Regions from separate parts of the Homo sapiens genome. Here all the other regions are linked to region 1. The links come from fine-mapping of genetic effects on gene expression. A gene starts in region 1. Each other region holds a variant in brackets. All regions are shown on one strand. Distances are from middle to middle.

Region 1 (8,180 bases):
GACGAACACCCAAAGGAAGGAGAGGGTAGGAATGGCACAGGACTTGCTAACACCTCCAGCTGCCAGGCCTCCTCTCACCAGTTATGAGGAAAGCCAGGCTTCATTCTTACCCCACCCCCACCAACTCTCACCTCCCTCAGCCTTCACAAAAAAACTCCACCCATACCTCCCCAATCCTATCCAGAAGCATTTCCAAAGTCCCTTCTTCCCTTTAAAACTAGTCTCCTGGGCCAGGCGACATGGCTCACGCCTGTAATCTCAGCACTTTGGGAGGCCGAGACGGGCGGATCACGAGGTCAGGAGATCGAGACCAACCTGGCTAACACAGTGAAACCCCGTCTCTACCCAAAATACAAAAAATTAGCCGGGCGTGGTGGCGGGCACCCATAGTCCCAGCTACTCGGGAGGCTGAGGCAGGAGAATGGCGTGAACCCGGGAGGCGGAGCTTGCAGTGAGCCGAGATCGCACCACTACACTCCAGCCTGGGCGACAGAGCAAGACTCTGTCTCAAAAAAAAAAAAGGCAAAAAAAAAAAACTAGTCTCCTCCAGCTCTGCTGAAGCCCTGCCACAGGAGTCACATTCCAAGTAACCGGAAAGAAAATACAGAATGAATGTAATCCATCATTTGTGGATACCCTAACCCTCGCCTTATAGTAACTCTAGTTACTAGAGCAACTAGGAAGCTCTCCTGAAATCGTAGTTCATTTTCTGGTGATTAGGTTACTTTCAGAAATTAGAGGTTTCATTTATACTAAGAAACTTAATATGAAACTACTATTCCCACCTAATGAGCAAGAAATGCTTTCACTTATTAATATATCTTGCCAGGGCGAGGCACAGTGGCTTAGGCCTGTAATCCCAGCATCCTGGGAGGTCGAGGCAGAGGGATCACTTGAGCTCAGGAGTTCAAGACCAACCCAGGCAACATGGCAAAAACCCATCTCTACAAAAAATTAGCCAGGCATGGTGGCACACACCTGTAGTCCCAGCTACTCGGGAGGCTGAGGTGGGAGAATCATCTGAGCCCAGGAAGTCAAGGCTGCAGTGAGCCATGATTGTGCCACTGCACTCCAGCCTGGGTAATGGAGTGAGACCCTGTCTCAAAAAAATAGAGAGAGAGAGAGAGACAGACAGACAGACAGACAGACAGAGATAGGAGAAAGGGGGAGGGAGAGAGAGGTAGGGCAGAGAGAGAGGGAGAGGAGAGAGGAGAGAGAAGAGAGAAAGAGAGAGAGATCTTGCCCATCTGGCTTTATTCTGAGACCCACCGAGTGAAGCCTGTGGCAGACAAGAGTGGTTTCTATGAAAAAAATATAAATAAATAATAAATAAAAAGTGGTATTCCCAGATGTGAAGGCAAACTACAACAATGACAATGGCCTCTCTATTGATTGGCAGGGTCAATTTGGCTGACAAGTTGGCTGGTCAGGTTTCTCATCTCCAGGTGCTCTGCTTCCAAAGCTGGGAGTGGTACAAAGAGATTACATGGTCCTTGCACCAGAGTTCATCTACTTTACTCAACCCCATAGTTTTACATTCAGTTCTAACAAATTTAGATGGTTTCCAAGTTCAGTTAATCAGACAGAATAAATCTTCATAGAGAGAAAAACACTTTATTCATTCAACAACTATTTGTTGAGTGCCTAAGAAGTGCCAGACACTTGGAGATTCAGCAGTGACTGATACACAATGACCCCATCTCCTCCTGGCTTATGTGTGTTTGGTGGGAGGCAGAGGCAGAGGGTTAGACAGTAGAAAAGTAAATTAAAATTAAAATAATTGTAAATAAAATAATTACAACATGTTACGGTGGCTAACAAGGACATAAACAGAGCTGAGGATCTTGCATTCTCAGAATTATGAAAAGCAATATTCAATCAAGGCCAGGCGCAGTGGCTCACACCTGTACTCCCACCACGTTAGGAGGCCAAAGTGGGAGAATCCCTTGAGCCCAGGAGATCAAGACCAACAACATAGCAAGACCCCATCTCTACAAAAAATAAAAATAAAAATAAAAAAATTAGCCAGGCATGGTGGTTGTGCCCACATTTCCAGCTACTCGGGAGGCTAAGGTGGGAGGATCGCTTGAGGCCTGGAGTTCAAGGCTGCAGAGAGCTGAGATTGTGCCACTGAACTACAGCCTAGGTAAAAGAGTGAGACCACATCACACGCGAAAATAATTAAAAAACAAAAACTAAAAAACTAAAAGCAACTGATCTTTGAGAAGTGATAACTGCATTCTCAAAGTACCTAATCTCAACAATACCCTAACTTAAAACCTGCTGACTAGGAGATGTATTTGACTGCAAATCTGGCCCACACAAGCAATAATCTGAGTTTCCATCAAGGAAGCTGTAAGCACCAAGTAGAGCAAAAACAAATCCAGGCCTCAAATGGAAAAAGCAGCTCTGAATTGTGATTTTCGAAGAAACCTGCATTTCTTACACTTCAGTGTACTTTCCCCATATTTAACTCCAAGATTTTTGTTAATTTGTTTGGTTTTCCTTTCTCAAACAAAATTATGCTCAGACTGAAAACCCTAGATTTGTTCCCTATTGCATCTTCATTTCTTCCCAAACATTCCATAAAACGTGACCTACATTAAGTTAGCAAGTTAAGTCTGAAAGCGTCTACCTTCCCTGGGGAGGGGGAAGGTGTAGGCAGGGCAGAGATTTGTAGTCCAGCCCTCTTGCCACAAATTATGAATTAGAGAGGAATGACTTTGCTTTTTTAATGATCTCCAGAGAATTTTCCATCATTTCCCTCTCTTCACCCAGCTCCTTTGCAACCACTGCCAGAGAAGTCTTCCTTTAGCTTCTTAAACATCGATCCTAAAACACTTCCAGACACCTGTGCTGCTCCTTTCAGTTCCCATGGAGATTAGGCTGTGTAACAATCTCGCAAAGACGTTCCCCTCCGTCTCCTCATCCTCTTTTCAAACCCTTTTACGATTTCCCATCTCACTCAGCATGACAGTCAAAGTCCCTGTGATGGCCAACTTCTGCATCACCTAGCCAGTCTGCCACCGCCAAAACTCTCCAGCCTCATCTTTCTACTCTTCCCCTGGTTCCTTGCCCACGCCTTTACACTTGTTCTCTGCTTGGAATCTTCCCTCCCCTCCTTGAGGAACTTTCTCAAATGTCACCTTCCCTCAATACTCCCCCTCCTCCATTTAAAACTATAAACTTCCAACTCTCTAAGCCCCTAAAGTACTCTATATTTAACTTATTGTATAAACTACTGTCCCTACTTGTAAGTTCCAAGATTGCAGGGATTCACCCGCTTTGTTCACTGCTGTCTGCCAAGGTCTAGAACAGTGCAAGTTACCCAACAGGAGTTCAATAAACAGCCATTCATTTAACAAATATTTGCTGAGCACTTCGTCCCGTCCAAGTTTGTTAAATCAAGACAAATAAGACACCGTCCCTGCCTTTAACGCACCAGATGGAGAAATGCACCACAGACATAAATGTGCAATACAGGCCTGACACTACGGCCACAAGCAAGTCAAAGAACGTGCCAAAAGTTCAGAGGAAGAAGCCTCGGCTTCGCCTTTCGGGAGACCAGTCCAGCTTTCCACCATCACGCTGCTCATCAGGGACCATCTCCGGGGGTCTCCTCTAGACCCCAAGGGAGGAGCGGGTCCCGCCCGCCATTCCCAGGTCTCAGAGTTTACTTGTCCAGAGATGCAACTTCCGGCCTCTTCAGGCCGGGCAAGATTTAAGGAAAGAAAAGAAACATAAGGACCTCCGTTCTTCGGTCTCCGTCCCCTCCCCTTCCCCCGCGTGCCGTCCCCACAACGGGCCAGGACTGAACCCAACTCTCGACCAACTCCCGGCAGCAAAACTAAGCACCCTACTTCCGTTGTCCCCACCTGTTCCCGGCGTCCCCTTCGGCTACTCCCGGCGTTTGCGCAAGCGGTCCCACGTGGGCTCGGGCGGGGCTAGCGCCGCGGCGGGGGCTGGGCACGCCCCTAGCGCATAGCTGGCTTCTGATTGGCTTTCCGGTGCTCGCCCGAGCAGGGTTGGGGCGAGTGGACCGCGCCTCTAAAGGCGCTTGCCAGTGCAATCTGGGCGATCGCTTCCTGGTCCTCGCCTCCTCCGCTGTCTCCCTGGAGTTCTTGCAAGTCGGCCAGGATGTCTCAGGTACAGCGCGTGCACAGCCAGGCTGCGAAGGTGCAGCGGGCGGGAGGCCCGTTGGGGGCTCAGCCGGCTGCCAGAAGCTCTCGGGCTCTTTCCTTCCGTGCCCCTCACTTGCTCATGGGCCCATGCCTAGCCCTGATTCGTTGGACAGAGCCTTGTGAGCGGGATTTTCCGTTTGGGGATTTCTAAATCTGCTGCCCACCCCGCAACTGCCGGAAAGTTGCCCATGGGGTGGACTTCGCTGTGTAGCGGGAGAGGGGTGGGAGTCGAGGGTGCTTGATGGAGAGATGGGGGAAGGGGTTGCACGGATTGGAGGAGCGAGGAGACTCAGTCCCCATCCCGAAGCACAGGGCAGGACGTCGCGGCGGAGTGGGGAAGCGAGGAGTCCGTGGCCGAGAGCTTGGAGGTCAGGGGAAGTACGGGGCCGGCTGCTCAGAGTGCGGGACGAGGAGAATCGCGGCCCGGGGAGAGGTGACCCAGGGGCCCCTCCCTTCTCTCCAGTGTAGACCCTTGTCTGAGACCGAGCTATGTGGGGCGACCTCTGGCTCCTCCCGCCTGCCTCTGCCAATCCGGGCACTGGGACAGAGGTCGGTGTTGAACGCGCGGGCCCCAGGGGGAGGGAGGGGACCAACGGGCTCCGGCGCTGACACCGCGGCACTCATGCCCTGTCCCCTTTCAGCTGTTTCCAGCATACTGTGCCCCGTCTGTCCTCAGGCCAGGGCTTCGCTGCAGCCCCGGCCACTCCCTAGTGCCTGGCCCGGTGGTGGCCAGGCAGTTGGCCGCGCTGCTTCTCCCGCAGAGGGGACCCCCACTGGGGGCGAAGGCTTGGCCTGCCCTCTTCACTGCTGTATTTCCAGACCTGATGCCTGCGTTTGTGAGAGCTCTGGATATATGGTTTTCGATTGAATGAGTGAACTGGAGGGGCTTCCCCTTCTTGTGTTGCTGAATCTTTCTAGCTGCCCTGTTGGGGCAGGGAGGGGCAGACACACTTCAGGGGCTGCATTGCCCGAAGGGTGCCACCTTTCCCACCTCTCCATCCCCGTAACTGGGCTGTCATCAGGCCACAGTAGGATTCTTACCCTCTCCCACCCAGAGGAGGCCCTCAATCCTCTCCTCTCCCTTCCATTTAGGCTGAGTTTGAGAAAGCTGCAGAGGAGGTTAGGCACCTTAAGACCAAGCCATCGGATGAGGAGATGCTGTTCATCTATGGCCACTACAAACAAGCAACTGTGGGCGACATAAATACAGGTATGCAGAGCGGGGGTTGGAAGGGCATCTGCTCATCAAAGCAGGCTCAGCAGCTCAGACTGGAAGTCCCTGGGAACTTCACTCTCAAACTGCCTGAGGCCCTACTCTTCAGGTGGGGTATGGTGATGGTTCCTGAGGTGGAAAAGACCATGTTCCGGATTCTCAGTGTCTCCAGTAGTAACAGAATTCAAATCCTGGTTTTAGAAGGTCTTTACTGGTTATCACCAGCAGCTACTCTCTACTAGGGAAGAAGCAAAGGCTGCAGCTTGGAAAAGACTTGCTGAAGGCTCTCAGCTCAGTAGTATCATTGTTGAGCCGTTCAGCTTCTGCCCTAGATGGGCAGGATCAAAGTTGGAGCACTTTTTGGAGCACTTGACAGCCTGGCCAAGCCTGATGTCAGGAGCAGAGAAGCACCTGGTTTCTTGGGCTAGGTCAGAGCATTTCGCTAACAAGTCTGTGCCTTCCTGATGATAACTTTTTCCCTGCCCAGAAATCTTGGTGCAGATTTTGAGGCTGTGCTTTGGACTGTCATGTTCTGTAATAACATCTTTCCTGCCTTGGGCAGGTTTCATTCTGTCCCTAAGTCCCTGAAACATGGGTGGATACTGAGGCAACAGCGCAGTGCATTCTGTGCAAGGACTCAGGGTTATCATGGCAGCACAGAAGGGAGGTCTCCCCTGCCCCTGCTGAGGAAGAAGGCGAGCATGGTCCCTATTTCCGCAGTAGCTGGGGTGGAAGATGGAGCAGGTGGGCTGGCTGCCAACCAGCTGGAAGCAGGAAATAGTACCCAGAATGACAGATCACAGGCAGTACCATATCAAACCCTGGGGTTCACATGGAGCACTTAGTTGAAGAAGGTCTTATGGCGAAGGTGAGTTTTACAGTGAGTTCGTAAACTCTGTCCTTCCAGGGAGGGGAAGGAAAGGTGAAGTGGGGGAGGCCAGAGGTGCCAAGATGCTTTTCTGACAAACAGTATTTTCACAGAGACTGGCCTGTGCCCGTACTAGAGTTACCGATTTTCACATGAGTCTAGATAGACTGGCATAGGAATCTATCACTTACTGATCAAAGAGGTGTCATCGGCTCTCTCTAGGGCTGTACTATACAGCCCTATTACACGATTATAAAACATGATAGTCCAAACACGATAGTTTAGTATAATAGCCAGTAGCCACATATGACTATATAAATTTTAACTGAGGCTGGGCGCTATGGCTCATGCCTGTAATCCCAGCACTTTGGGAGGCCGAAGCAAGCGAATCATGAGGTCAGGAGTTTGAGACCAACCTGGCTAACGTAGTGAAACCCCATCTCTACTAAAAATACAAAAATTAGCTGGGCATGGTGGCATATGCCTGTAGTCCCAGCTACTTGGGAGGCTGAGGCAGGAGAATCGCTTGAACCTGGGAGGTAGAGGTTGTGGTGAGCCGAGGTCGCACCACTGCACTCCAGCCTGGGCAACAGAACGAGACTCTGTCTCTAAAAAAAAAAATTTTAACTGAAAATAGTTAAATAAAATCAAGTTTAGTCTTCATTCACAGGAACCACATTTCAGATGCCCAGTAGTCATTTCAGGTACTTGGTGTGGCAAGTGGCTCCTGAATTGGACATTGCAAATATACATGTACATTTCCATTTCCACCGCTTGGAGAGAGCTGTCGAGGAGTGCTATTCTAGGATCCTGATGATGACCACAAGGGCAGTTTGTTTCAGCTGTCCCTGGGAACACTTCCCTGAAAGCGCTCAGGGACATTTTCTCAGGCACAGTGCTCCAGGCTACGGACTCTGATTGTTCCCTGTGGCTTTGGGGCTGGGCATCGTAGTGAAATAGGACAACAGGGAGATGGTGAGTGTGTTTCCCAACTGCAGATGACAACAGGTCTATAAGCATAAAGTCATCATATAACTTAAAGAAACCTTACCCTCGGTGAAATCTCCCACAGATCAGCAAGAAATAGACTAACAATTCGGTAGAAAAATGGGGCTAGGATATAAACAGTTCATAGGAAAGGACACCTGATATCATTAATGATTAGGGAGAGAAATTGGGTAGCTAACAGCAGGGGTGAGAGAGAAACTTTATAGTATTTTCCTCTGTAGCTTTTGAATTTTAAGACATATGAATGGATTTTTTTTTTAATTGTAATTAAAGTATAATTTTTTTAAAAGAGAAATTTTGGAGTCATTTAACTTGTAAGACAAAGGCTATCTTGTAATAAGAATACTGTTCTTCCTATTTGCTCTAGATTTTAAGTTTGGATTGGCATACATTGGTTTTCTTAGGGCAGAACCCACTCTACTAGACCTATTTAACCCCATGACAGAGCCTAGAAGGAACAGGTGTAATAGAAGATGGCATTTATGGCAAGAAGGTTGATCAAGTTCTCCATTAGAATTTGAACCAGATCTAATGCCTTTTCTTCCCTTGTTTAAGAACGGCCCGGGATGTTGGACTTCACGGGCAAGGCCAAGTGGGATGCCTGGAATGAGCTGAAAGGTAATTGTTCTAATCAATTTCTCTCATTTGTGAAACCCAGTAGTGAAAGAGTCTTCATTATGAAGTGTAAGGGAAGAGGAGAGAAAACAAAGTCAATGGGGCACGTGTGGGAAACCAGCCTGACCTGTGCCAGAATGGGAAAAAACCGGGCCACCTACTTTTTCTCCTAACACCATTTATGCCTTTTCTAAAAGCACCATCTCTGAGCAGGAGCATCATCTAGAGAGGAGGGGCTGGGAACCAGGCCACTGAAAAATAGTTTGGGAAATGATGTAGTTGGCGTAGGCTTTGG
Region 2 (8,180 bases), 29 kb after region 1:
CTTGGGGCCTGATGAGCAAAGTGTGAAGTGTCTAGAGAGGGAGCTTTGGGACAGAGTACATAAAGCATGGGATTTACTTCAGTTCCAGCAGGCCTGGTTTCAAATCCTGGCTCTGCTACTTACCGCTAACCTCTCCGGAACTCCATTTACTCATCACTAAAAGGGATTATTATGATGATTGAATGAAATCAAATGTGTTCAAATGTATAAAGTGCCTGGCATCCAGTACCTACTCAATACATGGAGTGAGTTTTATTATGTGGAGGGAACAAGGTTTTTCAGTGGACTAACAAAGGGCGTGGAATCTAAATAATCTGTCTGTGTGTCTGTTGCCCCCACTGCCCGATGGACAGTGGAATAGGGACTGCACCTGGCACACGGTAGCCATTCAGTATGAGCATTCAAAGAATGAACCTGCATAGGAAGCACTGGAGCTCCTATGACTGAACCAACCGTCATTTTGGGGGTCCCCACAAGCTTACTCAAGTCCTATTGCCTGGCTGACTGTGCAGCCTCTGCTTTTGGTGGCTGGAATTGACACTGCAGGTATAGATTTATGCCAAACCCTGATCTCTTTATGCAGAGCCCAATCCTGGACCCCACCGCCTGCCTCTTCTCACCTGCCTGGTGGGATCTGAGAGGGAACTGCTTCTCTGAGTCGCCTCCTGCTATGCCTCCCCACCCCAACTTTCCCCTGCCTAACTGGCCCCAGGTTATAGCACCCTTGTATGGCCTTGAAAAAGCTGTTCCCTCCTCTCTTGCAACTGATAACACCCTCCTCTATCCAAGCCACCCACAGGGACACATTTCTATCACAGAACTCTAGATGCTTTATTTTTATTTATTTATTTATTATTTTGAGAAGGAGTCACACTGTGTCACCCAGGCTGGAATGCAGTGGTGCAATCTAGGCTCACTGCAACCTCCACCTCCTGGGTTCAAGCGATTCTTCCACCTTGGCCTCCTGAGTAACTGGGATTACAGGTGTGCACCACCAAGCCTGGCTAATTTTTGTGTTTTTGGTAGAGACATGGTTTCCCCATGTCGGCCAGGCTGATCTCGAACTCCTGACCTCAAGTGATCCACCCGCTTCAGCCTCCCAAAGTGCTGGAATTACAGGCATGAGCCACTGCCCCCAGCTACATGCTTTGTTACAATTATTTGTTAGCACAACTGCCTGCTTCCTCCTGGGTAAGGTCCTTGAAGGCAGCGGCTGTATCTTCCCTGTCTCAGAGGTTAGCCACATAAATCCTCAATAAACACACTTATTGAATGGATGAACAGATGGGTGTCAAAATTTCATCTCCTTCTTGTCTTCCTCAGCTGTACCCCATTCAAGGTATTCCAAAACAAATTCTATTAGTAAATCCCCACAGCCAGCAATCATTGCCACACTTAAGATACAAGAGCCCCCCTTATCCACAGTTTCACTTTCCAAGTTTTCAGTCTCCTGCAGCCAACCACAGTCCAAAAATATTACATATAATAAGATATTTGAAAAAGAGACAATTCACATAACTTCTATTATACTATATTGTTATATTTGCTCTATTTTATTATTAGTTATTATTAATCTCTTACTGTGCCTAATTTATAAATTAAACTTTATCATAGGCATGTATTCATAGGAAAGAAACATATATATGTGTGTATGTATATATATGTATATAAAAATATAATTTTATTGCTCAGTCATGGGAAGCACAAAATAGAGTTCTTGCTGAGTGGATGGCTCCTTCCAGGTTCTGCCTCTGCCTTCCTTTACAGCCTTGGGGGCCTCTGAGCTCAGCATGAGGACTGGGAAGGACAATGGAGGTTTTTGTTTTTGTTTTTTTGAGCAGAGTCTCGCTCTGTCACCCTGGCTGGAGTACAGTGGTGTGATCTCAGTCCACCGCAACCTCTGCTTCCCAGCTTCATGCGATTGTCCTGCCTCAGCCTCCCAAGTAGCTGGGACTACAGGCATGTGCCACCACACCCAGCTAATTTTGTATTTTTAGTAGAAATGGGGTTTCACTATGTTGGCCAGGCTGGTCTTGAACTCCTGACCTCAGGTGATCCTCCTGCCTTGGCCTCCCAAAGTGCTGGGATTATAGGTGTGAGCCACCGCACCCAGCCAACAATGGAGGTTTTGATAGGCTAGGTCTTGAATTGACATGCATCACTTTTGTTGATATTCCATTGGCTAGAATTCAGGCACAAGGCACCCAAATTGTAAGAAAGGCTGGGAAATATAGTCCAGCTGTGTGTGCCCAGAGAAAAGAGGAAATGGTTTGCTTAGTAGTCGGCTAGTCTCTGCCACACCACCTTAATGGGAATTATTTTACCAGTTCAAAGATTTGAGAATTTAGATTCGGCTCTATCATTAGCATCAGTAGACTATTTTCATATCAGAAGGGCTTTTGTGTGGTAATTAATACTGCCTTGATTAAACAGAATGCAGTTTTAATAAACCACATTTAGAGAATGATTTTTCTTTAACATTTGGACACTGATTACAGATGTTATTCAATACATTTCCTATGTGACTTAAACTAAAATTATGGTTTTATCATGACAGATTACCTCACACTTCAAATATTCTACTCCAGGAGTCAGCAAACTGAGGCTCACTGCCTGATTTTACAAATAAAGTTTTATTAGCACATAGCCACACCATCATTTCCATATAGTGTATGGCTGCTTTCCCTGTACAACAGCAGAGTTGAGTGGTTGCAACAGTAACCACATGGCCTGTAAAGCCAAAAACATTTACCTCCTGGCTTTTTAAGAAAAAGATTTAGACTGAAACAAAATATCCACAAATATACCAGACAAAAGATTACATTTAAACTTGTTCTAAAATACCACCAGTATGAGCGTCCTCTTTCTTTTTTTCTACTTTTTTTTTTTTTTTTTTTTTTGAGACAGAGTCTTGCTCTGTCTCCCAGACTGGAGTAAAGTGGTGCTATCTCGGTTCACTGCAAACTTTGCCTCCGGGTTCAAGCAATTCTCGTGCCTCAGCCTCCCAAGTAGCTGGGATTACAGGTGCACCACTATGCCCAGCTAATTTTTGTATTTTTAGTAGAGACAGGGTTTCACCATGTTGGCCAGGCTGGCCTTGAACTCCTGACCTCAAGTGATCCACCCGCCTTAGCCTCCCAAAGTGCTGGGATTACAGGCGTGAGCCACTGCACCC[A/G]GCCAGGAGGCTTCTTTTTTTTTTTTTTAAGATGGAGTCTCGCTCTGTTGCCAGGCTGGAGTGCAGTGGCACGATCACGGCTCACTGCAACCTCCGCCTCCTGGGTTCAAGCAATTCTCCTGCCTCAGCCTCCCGTGTAGCTGGGATTACAGGCGCAGGCCACCACACCTGGCTGATTTTTGTAGTTTTAGTAGAGACTGGGTTTCACCATGTTAGCCAGGATGGTCTCAATCTCTTGACCTCGTGATCCGCCCCCTTCAGCCTCCTAAAGTGCTGGGATTACACCGCGCCCAGCCAGGAGGCTTCTTATAATCACCATCCTTACACTTGTCCTTTTACCTTTTTAGAGCTTGTAACGCATATATTGATACCTTCAAGCGATACAGCAAACATATCCTGAAAAACAAGGAGCAGAGATTAAGTAGAAGAAGAAAGAGAAGGAGGAAAAGGAAGAGGAGAAAGAGGGACAGGAGGAAACATATGCTTGTTTTATTAGGATGCTTTTTTTTTCATAGATTATTGGGGGACAGGTAGTGTATTTGGTTACATGACTAAGTTCTTTAGTGATGATTTGTGAGATTTTGGTGCACCCATCACCCAAGATTAGGATGCATTTTGATTAATTAGGACAACTAGAGATCTCATCCCCCAGAAGTCACGGATGCAGTCTGGACAGCTGGTCTCTCTGGGAGACTCACCTGGTCCATCATTGTGCAGCACTCTTGGGCATCGTTCTACTCTGGGGCTTTGTGTGACTGACAACACTGATAGGTCCTCCTTGCTTTTCCTGGTCATCTCTCACTTGCTCACGCTTCCATGTTTATTCTTTACCACTTACACATGGAGAATGCGTCTTACATAGACTTAGAAACAGACATATCCACACTCTCCTCACTACTGCAATTTATTTAAATACTATCTTTTTACACTTTCTATAAACATTTCTTTTTCAGGTATCATTATATTCGCATGTCTTTTTAGACTAAACTTATTCTTAACAATACAAGTATTCCATTTTGATGCTCAGATTATGATAAATTGTTGCCAATTGTTACAGTTTGGCCAAGCAGTTCTTTTGGTGCCAAATTTTTGAAACCTTCCATTGTTTGGGGCCAACAGCAGGATATTCTAGGACCATCCTGATCTTTCTTAACTCCCAGGACACAGACAGGCCATCAGTTACCTTCTACTAGAATCCTGATTCCTTTGGTGTAGAGTTATATTAGAGTACAAAACCTTGGCACTTAGAATTAAGCAAAATACTACTGCTTACTGCTGAGTCTTTTTTTTTTTTTTAAAGACAAGGTCTTATTCTGTTGCCTGGACTGGAGTGCGATGGTGCATTTAGAGCTCACTGAAGCCTCGAACCCTTGGGCTCAAGCTATCCTCCCACCTCAGCCTCTCAAGTAGTTAGGACAATGGGTATGTGCCACCTTACCTGGCTAATTTTTAAATTTTTTCTAGAGACTGAGTCTCACCATGTCCAGGCTGATCTCAAACTCCTGTCCTCAAGCAATCCTTCTACCTCGGCCTCCCAAAGCTTTGGGATTACAAGCGTGAGCCACCATGCCCGGCCTACTGAGTCACTTTTGAAGCTACACACATAGAAAAAAGATGTCTTTTGAACATGTCATTAATGCCCTTTCAAACTGATTTTTTTTATTAAATCCTAGAAAGACAAGAATGTTTAAAACTCAACTTTATGAAGACAGACAAGGTTTTCTGACCTCCAAACACTTCCCATTACTTATCAAAAGTAAAGCTTCGAGGGATGAGACTAGACCATTAATATAAACTACAGTATCAAGAAGATACAGAATGACCAGGCTGTTGCGCTCCATGAGACAGAGGAGGGCCTCCAAGGAGGTGTGAGGGGGCAGAGCTGGCAGGGAGGGAGGGAAGGGCTGGAGGTGAGCCCACAGTGTCTTTCGCATCTTCTTGGGCTGAGTACGGAGGAAGGAGGCTAAGTCCTACAAGAGCAAAATACTCAGGTGGTGTGGGGGTGGGATGTTGGATCCGACAGGTGGCTCCTTCCCTGCTTCTGGATACTCTGCTGGGTCTTAGGAATGCTGAGGCCCCCTGCCTAGGAGAATGGGGCCCCAGCACTGAGGGCCAGGCCCAGAGAGCTCCAGCATCCAGAGATGCCCAGGGGTCCCAAAGGTAACCCGGGGCTGGCTCCCTCTGAGGAAGAGAGCCTGAGGAGGAGGAACAGGCTGGACTTTAGGGCCAGAGCTTGAAAAAGAGCGACATCCAGGCCTCAAGGATGGCAGCCCCAGCAAGCGCCCAGGCAAGGGCAGGCCAGCCCAGGCCAGCAAGCACCCAGGCAAGGTCAGGCCAGCAAGCGCCCAGGCAAGGGCAGGCCAGCCCAGGGACTTGGGGAGAAGGCCTGACACGGCCCTGAGTTCCCTAAGGCACTCACACCTCGGTAAGGGATCCAGTGGGGGCCCTGTGACAGTTCCAGGCCAGGGTCCATCCTTCTGCCCCTATCCCCTTGAGAAGGAAGGGTGAGAGAGGAGACCCCTTCAGCGAGGAGAAGAACTGATGGGAAGTCTTAATTCTGAAGGGGCTAAGTCTTTGAAAAAAGTCTCTTTTAAATTGGAGAAGACTGAGATACTTTGACTCAGCAAGTCACCCACTTCTCATCACTCCATACCCACCCTCAGTGGACTGGAAGCAGAGCACGGTGAGGCTGGGCCAGTGATGGAAAACAAAGACGGGGCACATCTGGCTAAGCCAGTGATGGAAAACAAAGACGGGGCACATCTGGCTAAGATAGACCACTCCCAGTCTCCCGACCAGGCAAGGGGAGTTGGGGGAGTGGGGTGGCTCCACCTGCGAAGCACTTTGAGCTTTTGTCTCCAGAGGATGAGCGGATACCTCTACCTACCCAGCATTTTCACAGCCTCCTGGAGACAGGGTCATCCTTGGTCCCCGCAGAAGCAGGGTGCTCATTTGTGAAAGCCCTTCACAGCTTCACCAATCAACGCTTTCCCTTTGCTGCCTGTGTTGCAACACCGTGAGTTTTTCCTTTTCCAAATATGAGTTCTTTTTTTTTTTTTTTTTTTTTTTGAGACAGAGTCTTGCTCCTTTGCCTAGACTGGAAGCAGTGACGTGATCTCAGCTCACTGCAACCTCCACTTCCTGGGTTCAAGCAATTCTCCTGTATTCTCCCGCCTCAGCCTCCAGAGTAGCTGGAATTACAGGAGCCTGCTACCACACCCGGCTAATTTTTGTAGTTTAGTATGGACAGTATTTCACCATGTTGATCAGGCTGGTCTCGAACCCCTGACCTCAAAGGATCCACCCACCTTGGCCTCCCAAAGTGCTGGGATTACAGGTGTGAGCCACTATGCCAGGCCCAAATATGAGTTCTTTTAATTTGAATGTGTTTTTCTGATACACATGCCCCATCCCAAACTGAAGATTTTCATCTCTCTCTCTCTCTTCTCCCACACACATACACACACACGCACACACCCACTCACTCCCTTTAAGAATAGCCCTGGAAGGCCTGTCCTTCTCAGGGACATCCTGGGACAGTCCCATTCATTTCAGGAGCTACACATGCTCAGAGCCTCGTACCTGTGAGCTGCTCCCCAAGAATGGGAGCAGAACTGCCCTTTACAAACACCCGCTTCCAATTCTCCATTTTCAGCATTTTTCCCTTCCTTTTAGTCCCAGCCCCAGAAATGCTTAGGATTTAATGCCGTCTGGGAATATTTGCTTTCCAAAAGGAGAAATGGGGAACAATGCAATGCTCTACCTGAGAGATGACTCATCCGTGGTTCATGCTCAGGCATCAGAGAGCAAGGGAAGCTGCACCGGGGCGAAGCTGCCTTCCTCAGGGCTCCTCCTGCCTCCCCCCAGGGGACACTTCCTTCCCCAACTGCACCACCTGAGACGCCCCAGTGCTCGCCTGGATGTCCAGGCAGGTTAAATAGCTAATTACAAGAAGAATAGTCAACAGCAGCATTTTGGAGCTGTGCACCAGGAAGTCTATTCTATGCTATTACATGGACTAGGCACTAACTTATTCTTTCTTCATAGAGTAAGAAGCTGAGACACAGAGAGGTTAAGTAAGTTGTGCAAGATGCACAGTTGGTAAGGGGCAGGGCCGAGCTGCAAATGCAGGCATCTGGCCCCAGAGCCCTCACCCTAACACTCCACGTTGCCTCCTCTTGGGCTTTTCATGGAAAAAAGGAAATGATGACTCTCCACTTCCTCCTGCCCCCATCTCTGTCCATCCTGGGGACAGGGAGAGCCTGGGACAGAACAGCCCTGGAGCAGACTCACCCACCATGCCCAGGTCTGAGGTGGATCCAGGGTAAGGAGGAGACCCTGGACAGAGAGGGAGCATCACATTGACCGGGAGAAGGGATACAAGTTGCCCACACCCACTGCTGGGTCCAGGGGGCCTAAAGCAAATGGAGGCCAGGTTCTCACCTTTACAGAGGCCGCTGCTGAAATTCTTGGTCTTTGGGCTCACATGTTTATAGACTGCAACACTGCAGTCCCGCATTAGGCTCTGGAGATACACAAATAAATAAGATGTCTCCCTGCTCTCCAGAGTTCCCTGTCACCTGGGAACCATGTGATGAAACCACTGCAGCACCTCTGGGTCTTCTTCCCAAATAATCTAACCCCAATCTGATCAAAACCCCAGATCTATCAGCTTTCAGGAAATACAGGGGGCAGGGAAAGAACGCGTCAAGCTACTCCATGGGGATACAATCAGCAAAATCTGGGTGGCACAACAAACAATCCAGTTTTGTCGAAATAAAATACATGCTACGGGGAAGTAAAGAGAGGAGAGCCTCTGAGAGACAAATCAACACAGCACAGTGCATGGACCCTGGGGGATCCAGACTAGAACAAAGTAACTTTTTTTTTTTTAAGACAGAATCTCACTCTGTCACCCAGGCTGGAGTGCAGTGGCGCGATCTCAGCTCACTGCAACCTCCGCCTTCTGGGTTCAAGCGATTCTCCTGCCTCAGACTCCCGAGTA
Region 3 (8,180 bases), 77 kb before region 1:
CATTTATCAACTCCCAGTGTGTGCAGGCCATGGAGATGCAAGAGTAAGCCTGATCTTCAACCTCAGGGAGAGCCACATCGTTTGGGGAAGGTCAGTATATAAAAAAGCAAGGCCGGCCAGGCACAGTGGCTCACGCCTGTAATCCCAGCACTTTGGGAGGCCAAGGCGGGCGGATCACGAGGTCAAGAGATCGAGACCATCCTGGCCAACATGGTGAAACCCCATCTCTACTAAAAATACAAAAATTAGCTGGGCATAGTGGTGGGCACCTGTAGTCCCAGCTACTTGGGAGGCTAAGACAGGAGAATTGCTTGAACCCAGGAGGCAGAGGCTGCAGTGAGCCAAGATCATGCCGCCGCACTCCAGCCTGGTGACAGAGCAGGACTCCATCTCAAAAAAAAAAAAAAAAAAAAAAAGCAAGGCCACAGTGTGTGATCAGTGCTCCAGAGGACTGGCCAGCACACAGCAGGATGAAAAGGAGAGCAGGGACCAGTCTCCTGGCTGTGAAGTGCTGGGAAGGTGGGATGGAAAGGACCTTAAGGACAAGATGGTCCTTGGTTGTGCCTCCCAGGATGAATGCTAGTCTGGTGGAACATTCAGAGACCAGAGTGGGAAGTCTGAGAAAGTGGCAGCATGGTGTGCCCAGAGAGAACAGGGTAAGGGGACAGGGGAGAGCTGGGGGAGACAGGAGGAGGTGCCAAATTCCATAGCTGGAGGAGAAGCTGGAGATGTAGCCAGAGATCAAACCAAAGAAGCCCCACTACACCATGCCAGAGTGTGCTCGTGATTCGGAAGGAAACAAGGACCCATCCGATGGTTCTGAACAGGGAGGGATACAGCAGTCAGACTTGCATTTTTAAAAGATCACTCTGGCAGCGGCATGAAGGCTGGACTCGGTGGATGAGAGTCTGCAGGGAAGGACACCAGACGGGAGAGTGTCTCTGCGGTCAGGATGAGAAATGATGAGGCCCAAAGCAGGGCAATGGCGGTGGGAAGGGAAGGGGAGGCCGTTCTCATGAGATGTTCATTCCAGCAATTCTGAGCTGACTTCTGTTGAGGAGGTATCAGCAAGTAGTGAAAGGCAAAGAAGGGTTTCACTTGCTCCAGCTATGGACTAGGAATTTCTTCTTAGTACCCCCAGTGAGCAGAAGAACCTTCTTTCACCTGCGAAGTCCCTCCTGATGGTTGGTTCTGGCAGGCTCCATCACTTAGGAGCTGGGAAACCTCGGGCAGGTCACTTTACCTCCAAGTGCCCCTTCCCCATCTGTAAGATGCAGATAACTAGTACCTACCTCACAGGGGTTGTGAGCAGTAGTGAGTAAATATCTGCAAAGTGCTTTAGTGAGGCCTGACAGGGCAAGCACTTGATAAATGCTGGCTGTTTTATGCCTGGCTCAGTCTCGCTTCTGATGGCTTGTCCTGCAGAGCTTGCTGGACCTTGCTGGAAAAATACTTGAAATTTTGAAATATGGCTTTTGTCACATATGCAATATCCACATAATGGAAGTGCCTACCAGCCAGAAACCAGGCAACTATCACACCTCAGTCCCCACCAGCTCACCATCACAGGTTCCCATGTACATACATACACACCGCCCGAGACCCTCTCCCACAACCCCACCACAAGGGCCTCTGCCCTCAAGTATACAACTTTAGAGGGTTATTTGAAAGCAGGGCTAATAACATGTTTTTTTTTTTAATAAGACATCACATATACATTTTTAAGATGGGAAGTCTCTGTTTTTGTTGAGAACAACAAAGGGGAATATGACATGGAAGATCTGAGGAGACGTGATATTTGTTCGAAGACATTGAGGCTCTTTCTTGATTCCTTGAGTTTTTTTTCATGGCAGAAATTTTTAACTGACATGAAGTTCTGGTTATGAAGGAAATTCTAGAAGACAACACATCTTCTCTCCTTACTCCTGAAGGAAGAGGTTAGATTTGGACGCAACTGTGTGTGTTTAAAATAAAATGGCATTGTTCTTACTTAAATTCCAATTTCTTATAATATTAGAGTTGGTCTTCAGTTAGTTGGTTGTGTTGGGAGAGTGATTTGGACCATATACATTACCCTCAAATATTCAAAAATGAAGGCCCAAATTTACCTATGGTGACAGAAATCACAGCAGTAGTGGCTGATGACAGAGGGCAGTGGTGGGTGATGACAGAGGGGCAGAGAGGGGACTGTGATGGCACAAAGGAGGTTTTGGGGGTGGTGGGCATGTTCTGCATCTTGACTTAGATGTGGGTCGTGCACTTGTCAAAACCCAAAGAACTGCATATCTAAGATCTTTGCATTTCACCATCTGTAAATTATACTTCAATTTTTTTTTTTTTTTTGAGACAGAGTCTCACTCTGTCGCCCAGGCTGGAGTGCAGTGACGCCATCTCGGCTCACTGCAAGCTCCGCCTTCCGGGTTCCCGCCATTCTCCTGCCTCAGCCTCCCGAGTAGCTCGGACTACAGGCGCCTGCCACTGCGCCCAGCTAATTTTTTGTATTTTTAGTAGAGACGGGGTTTCACCGTGGTCTCTATCTCCTGACCTCGTGATCCACCCACCTCAGCCTCCCAAAGTGCTGGGATTACAGTATACTTCAATTTTAAAAAAGTAAGGGAGAGAGCAAGCAAGCAGATTTCCAAAGTTAAACATGAGAGGCTGATTATTCATTTACATCATCTCCTCTGAAAACCCCATTAAGATGGGAGTAAGGGGATAATACAAACATAAACTCATGAAGACAAAGAGACCCAGAGAGAGGACATCGAGGACAAGAGAGTTGATCCAAGTTTTGAAGGCGGGAAGTGGATGGAAGGGTGGAATTGTAAGAGCAGAGAAAGCTCCAACCCCGACACTGGCAGAAAGCACCATCCACCAGAAGCTAGACACTCACCCTCAGAACCTGGAAGCCGCAGGCCTTGCTCAGGCCAGAGACTGGAGAGGAGGCACTCACCTGCTTAGGGTCAGCTATTCCCCTCTGAGGACAAGTCACCTCCCCAGAACAAGACACGTGGCAATGGTAGAACCCACAAGCTCCATCCCCTCAGCCTTGGTGAGTCACTCCAGCCCCCAGCCTCCTCTCCCTCTCTTACACCTCAAGCCTTCTAGCAAAATTTCCCTGACTCTCGAAGGCTTTCAGGGAAAACCGAAATAATCTGTCTTCAAGCTGCTCTACTTTCAAGTGTATAAGCAACCCTGGGCCAAGACACTGAAAAAGCCAACATGTTGGAAAGAGAGGAAGAGAGAATACAGAGAGAATTGCTGGCTCTAGAAACTACTCTGTCCCTTTGACTTGGAGCCCGAGGAAGGCCAGTTACCAGGACCTTTGCAGGCAGGTCCCAACGCATTTCTAGCAAACACGGGGGCCTTAAGGCTGCAGAATGTGCGCTATGTCAGGAGGTCTCATGCAGCCAGAAGGTAGGGACATACTGTACTCTGCCTCAAATCAGCCTTCTTAAGATTCTACTCTCCTGTGGTTTAGCTTCTGTGTTCCATCTTGCACTTAACCAAGTCTCCTTGACATCTTAGTCTGGAAGCGTCTACCAGCTGTGGTGTCTGCATTAAAGCGCAGGGTGGCCGGGCGCAGTGGCTCACGCCTGTAATCCTAGCACTTTGGGAGGCTGACGTGGGCAGATCAGGAGGTCAAGTGATCGAGACCATCCTGGCCAACACGGTGAAACCTCATCTCTACTAAAAATACAAAAATTAGCTGGGCGTGGTGGCACGCGCCTATAGTCCCAGCTACTTGGGAGGCTGAGGCAGGAGAATCGATTGAACCCAGGAGGCGGAGGTTGCAGTGAGCCGAGATCGTACCACTGCACTCCAGCCTGGCGACAGAGTGAGACTCCGTCTCAAGAAAAAAAAAAAAAGTGCAGGGTGGCTTTGACAGGACTGGGGACTGGAATTAGACACCAAGGGGGTCCACAGAGCTATAAAGAGACCCTGCCACTTTAGACCTTGTCTCAGGCCCCGCTCGTAGCCCCAACTCAGCCCTCTGCCGGTAGTAGTTCTCTGCTGTCAGCCACACCCAGCTAAGCCAGGAAGAGAGACCACAGAGGCACCGCTCTGCACCAGGGCAGACTGGTTTTTATTCTGTCTGCTGCCTTAAAGTGAGATTTCTTAATTTTTAAAATAACCTAGAAACAAACATAGGGTTTTGTACACTATCCAAAGAGTTACTGGCATTGCCTAATTATGTGTGAGAACATTCAGTCTTCAGAAGGGAAGAGGGACATTCCCTCTGCAAAGTAATTCCTGCGTCCCTGCCCCTGCATGGGAGTCACCATTTGACCCCAAAGCTCTGGGCACTGCTTACAGGCTCACATATGCCCAAGCTAAAGGACAGCTTCCAAGCCCCTCCACCAAGCAGAAGAACGTCTCCCTGCAATTGGTTTGAGAAGGAATTTTTTAAGCACCTCACCTGGGCCAAATGGAGGAGGCTGCCTATCAATTGTTGTACTAGGAAGCATTTAACACAGAAGCCATAGAAACCGGCTCACGACCTTTCAACCTTCAGCTTTAAGGAATCCTCAACAAATATACAGGGACGTTTTCCAAAGCGTTGACACATTATTAGTCTTCTTTTTAGAAATGGCCCATCATTAAATAGAGTGGTATAAAAGAAAAAGAAGGAAATAAGACTATAGAGGTAAAACTGACTAAAGTTAGGTATTGGCTTTGAAATAATTAAGCATTGACTTTTAAAATAAAATTTTAGGCTGGGAGTGGTGGCTCATGCCTGTAATGCCAGCACTTTGGGAGGCGAAGGCGGGTGGATCACCTGA[G/A]GTAAGGAGTTCGAGACCAACCCGGCCAACATGGCAAAACCCTGTCTCTACTAAAAATACAAAAATTAGCCTGGCGTGGCATTGCACGCTTGTAATCCCAGCTACTCAGGAGGCTGAGACAGGAGACTCGCTTGAACCTGGGAGGCGGAGGTTGCGGTGAGCCGAGATCGTGCCACTGCACTCCAGCCTGGGCGACAGAGTGAGACTCCGCCTCAAAAAAATAATAAAAATAAAAATAAAATTTTAGGCAGTAGCAATTGCATGGTCGCTGTTGAGCACTAGTACAACATGCCACCCCATCTACAAGCTGATGGCTTTGACTTTCAGCTATCAGACGCCAAGGCTGACTTACAGGGGGACAAACCTATTGAACACAGTCCTTAACAAATGACTGACACCGGCTCGGCCTCATCAGTTCCCAGGCCCAGACAGACTCTGCTGCCACCTGGTGGCTGAAGGGTAGGCAAAGGCGGACAAGTGCAGAGCCACTCCACCTGACCTGCAGCCTGGACTTCTCCGCGTAACGAGGCTCTGCTAATATGGCAGGAAAGGTGTCATACCGAGGAGAAGCTGCTCGGCAAGATGTAAAGATGAACGGCTGGGCATTAATCGGCTGGTGCCTGGCAGGTATCTAGAATATTCTAACTACAAAACCTGCCTTTGCAAGATTTTTCTTCCCAGAGATTCTATTTCCTTGAACAAGCTGTGTATCCATTCATTCTACCACCTCACTCCACCCCATCCCACCTGAAGCAAGTTACAGCCAGAGAATAGTGAAAGGGACGGCTTTATCCTTATAGAAAGGAAATTTAAAGTGCCGGCTGTTGTTAATGAGCCCATTACTCCTAATTGGGGAAAATTGCAACCAGAAGAAAGGGGATATGTCAGGGAAACATGTGACAGGTAATGTGCTCAGGGCTGGCTGAATCCAAGGGCAAGGCACCTCGGGAAATGAAATGGGAAGAGAAGGTTCTTGGAAAATAAAAAACGAGTCCTTCCCTGGGTCCAAGAACACTGCTGGGTGGTGTGGTTGGAGCTGACAGGTGGAGGGGGAGAACGGGCAGCAGCCGGACACCCCTGCCTTGTAGGAAGAGGCCTGGCTCCACTGCCTAGCACTCATGGGGGACAACCTCCTATTCAGTGTCTAAATGTTCTCTCTGCGCGATGGGATTAGTAGTATTTCTTTGTAAAATAGCAGTGTAACAGAAATTATTCCCCAAAACAATATGTTTAGTCAGGCACCGAGCTAGGTCACCTTAACAAAGTCACAGAGAAATTCTGGAAGGTCAGTGTTATCATCCCCACTTAACAGAGCCAGAAACTGAGACCTGGAGAGGCCAAGCAGCTCACCCAAGGTCACACCTCCAAGCTAGCAACAATGCCTGTGTTCTTCCAACCCCGGGCTGCCTATGTCCAAGCGGAGCTCTCTCTTCCCACTCATGCTTGCCTAAAGCAAACACAGAAAGACAAATGATTCCAATATATGCAAAAGTGCACCATTTGCCTTTTCCAATTTGTATAATTTTAAATGTCACCACAAGTTCACTTCTAGGTCACTTTTAAAACAAGCAACTTTGCTTTAAGGCAAGTGGGGAAAAAAATTCTGCCTTAATTTGTACAGTTGTACAATCCACTGTTCAGTTTTCTACTTAGTTTTCCAGGGAACAGTTCAAACAGAAACAAATGACAATCTAGGACACTTATCTTGCCTATTGTGACTAACCACCACAGCGTTTGAGTTTTGTTTTGTTTTTTTTCCAGCTGGTAAAAAAGCCCTCACAGGAGGCTCAGGACCGCCTCCGGGCATACGCAGAGCCCTAGCGGCAGAAAAGAACTGTCAGCCGCATGAAAATGCAAGTGCAGCAGTGACCCGAGTCAGACCGACAAAAACAAACTAACTTTCAACACAGGTTTTCATCTCATTTCCTCAACTCCATTTGAAACACATATGCACACAGGACTGCTGACCAATTATTCCAGAGCTCAGTCTATACCACTTTACACATCTGGATGACTAATTTCAACTAAAGAAACTCCTAGAGAGTGTATTCAGTCTACACAGATCTGTTAATACATTGCTATGGGATGAGCTTCAACAAGCTGTAAAGTTTCGCTTTAACATTCAAATACAATCTTAGGCCAGGTGCGGTGGCTCATGCCTGTCATCCCAGCACTTTGGGAGGCTAAGGCAGGCGGATCACCTGAAGTCAGGAGTTTGAGACCAGCCTGGCCAACATAGTGAAACTCTGCCTCTACTAAAAATACAAAAATTAGCTGGGTGTGGTGGCATGCGCCTGTAGTCCCAGCTACTCAGGAGGCTGAGGCAGGAGAATCGCTTGAACTCAGGAGGCAGAGCTTACAGTGAGCCGAGATTGTGCCACTGAACTCCAGCCTGGGCGACACAATGAGACTCTGTCTCAAAACAAAACAAAACAAAACAAACAAACGAACAAAAAACAAATATAATTTTAAAGTCATTCTCTCATCCCAGAAACATCCCTGCTGGCCTATGAAGTGCCAGCCACTGTTCTATACATTGGAGACATTCTAATAGCAGAAGACGGAACAGAAAAGGATTTTTAAAAAAGTAAAACAGAGATAGACAAATGAGTTTTGCAAGGGCAAGCATTTGCTATTTTATCTAGGATAAGCAGAGAAGGCCTCTTTTATGGCATTTGAGCAGACAGCTGACAGAAAGGGAGAAAACCATGCAAAAAATGTAGAAAAGTCACTGCAAACAGAGGGAAGAGCAAGTGCAAAGGCCCTGGGGCATGTGTATGTTTACCAGCTGGCCCTGGGGCGTGCATATGTTTGGTGTGCACCAGGAAGAGGACCAAGGCCAAGGTTCTTTCTCTGAGTAAGGGTTTTGAACTGAGGCATGACAGGATCTGACTCATGTTCTAGAAGAATCACTGTGATGGCTGGGTGAAGAATTGCAGCGGGGCAGGAATGAGAACAGGAAGAATTGTAGTGGGGTAGAAGTGAGAGAGAAGTGAAACCCAGTTGGAAGGAAGGTGACTGCAATAGTCCAGGTAAGAATGGTGGTGCCTTGGACCCAGTGGTAGCAGTGAAAAAGGTGAGAGGCGCCTGGGCCCTGGATATACTCTGAACGCCCGTGGAGCAGACAGAACTGGCTGATGGCCTGGCTGTGGGGGTAAAAGAAAAAAGAGATATATATCCAAGGTTTCTGGCCTAAACAAATGGAGGACTGGAGGTCATGTCCTTCAGTGGAGAAGACTGAGCATGGTCCACCCTCAGGGAGAAAGCTCAGAGGCTCAGCTGGAGTGTGTTATCATCTGAGGCATCTATCAGAGGATACCTATCAGCCACCTCACCAGGGATGGGGAGCACCCAGCAGGGACTCCAGCGGGCAGCTGGGCTGTGGACTGAAATCCG

The links. PIP is the estimated chance that this variant, and not a neighbour inherited with it, causes the effect. A credible set is the group of variants that fine-mapping cannot tell apart.
Region 2: its variant is the best candidate, but not a certain one, in a credible set for the expression of DBI in whole blood (TOPMed, PIP 0.56).
Region 3: its variant is the best candidate, but not a certain one, in a credible set for the expression of DBI in whole blood (INTERVAL, PIP 0.65).

What each region holds. Positions count from the first base shown.
Region 1 is chr2:119,362,915-119,371,094 of GRCh38, forward strand. It overlaps DBI (diazepam binding inhibitor, acyl-CoA binding protein), which reads left to right and starts at 4,063. Exons shown (of 4, transcript NM_001079862.4): 1 at 4,063-4,146; 2 at 5,274-5,391; 3 at 7,826-7,888. The coding sequence starts at 4,138. C2orf76 (chromosome 2 open reading frame 76) reads right to left here and starts at 3,920. Exons shown (of 6, transcript NM_001322331.2): 1 at 3,876-3,920. RefSeq lists enhancers at 3,494-3,753, 4,124-4,453, 4,984-5,183 and a silencer at 3,874-4,023.
Region 2 is chr2:119,391,914-119,400,093 of GRCh38, forward strand. No RefSeq gene overlaps it. Among named protein-coding and RNA genes, the nearest start is that of DBI, 29 kb to the left of the region's middle. The variant A/G (reference allele first, on the strand shown) is at 3,176.
Region 3 is chr2:119,285,832-119,294,011 of GRCh38, forward strand. It overlaps a transcript of C2orf76 not described here. Among named protein-coding and RNA genes, the nearest start is that of STEAP3-AS1, 41 kb to the left of the region's middle. RefSeq lists an enhancer at 6,219-6,720. The variant G/A (reference allele first, on the strand shown) is at 4,785.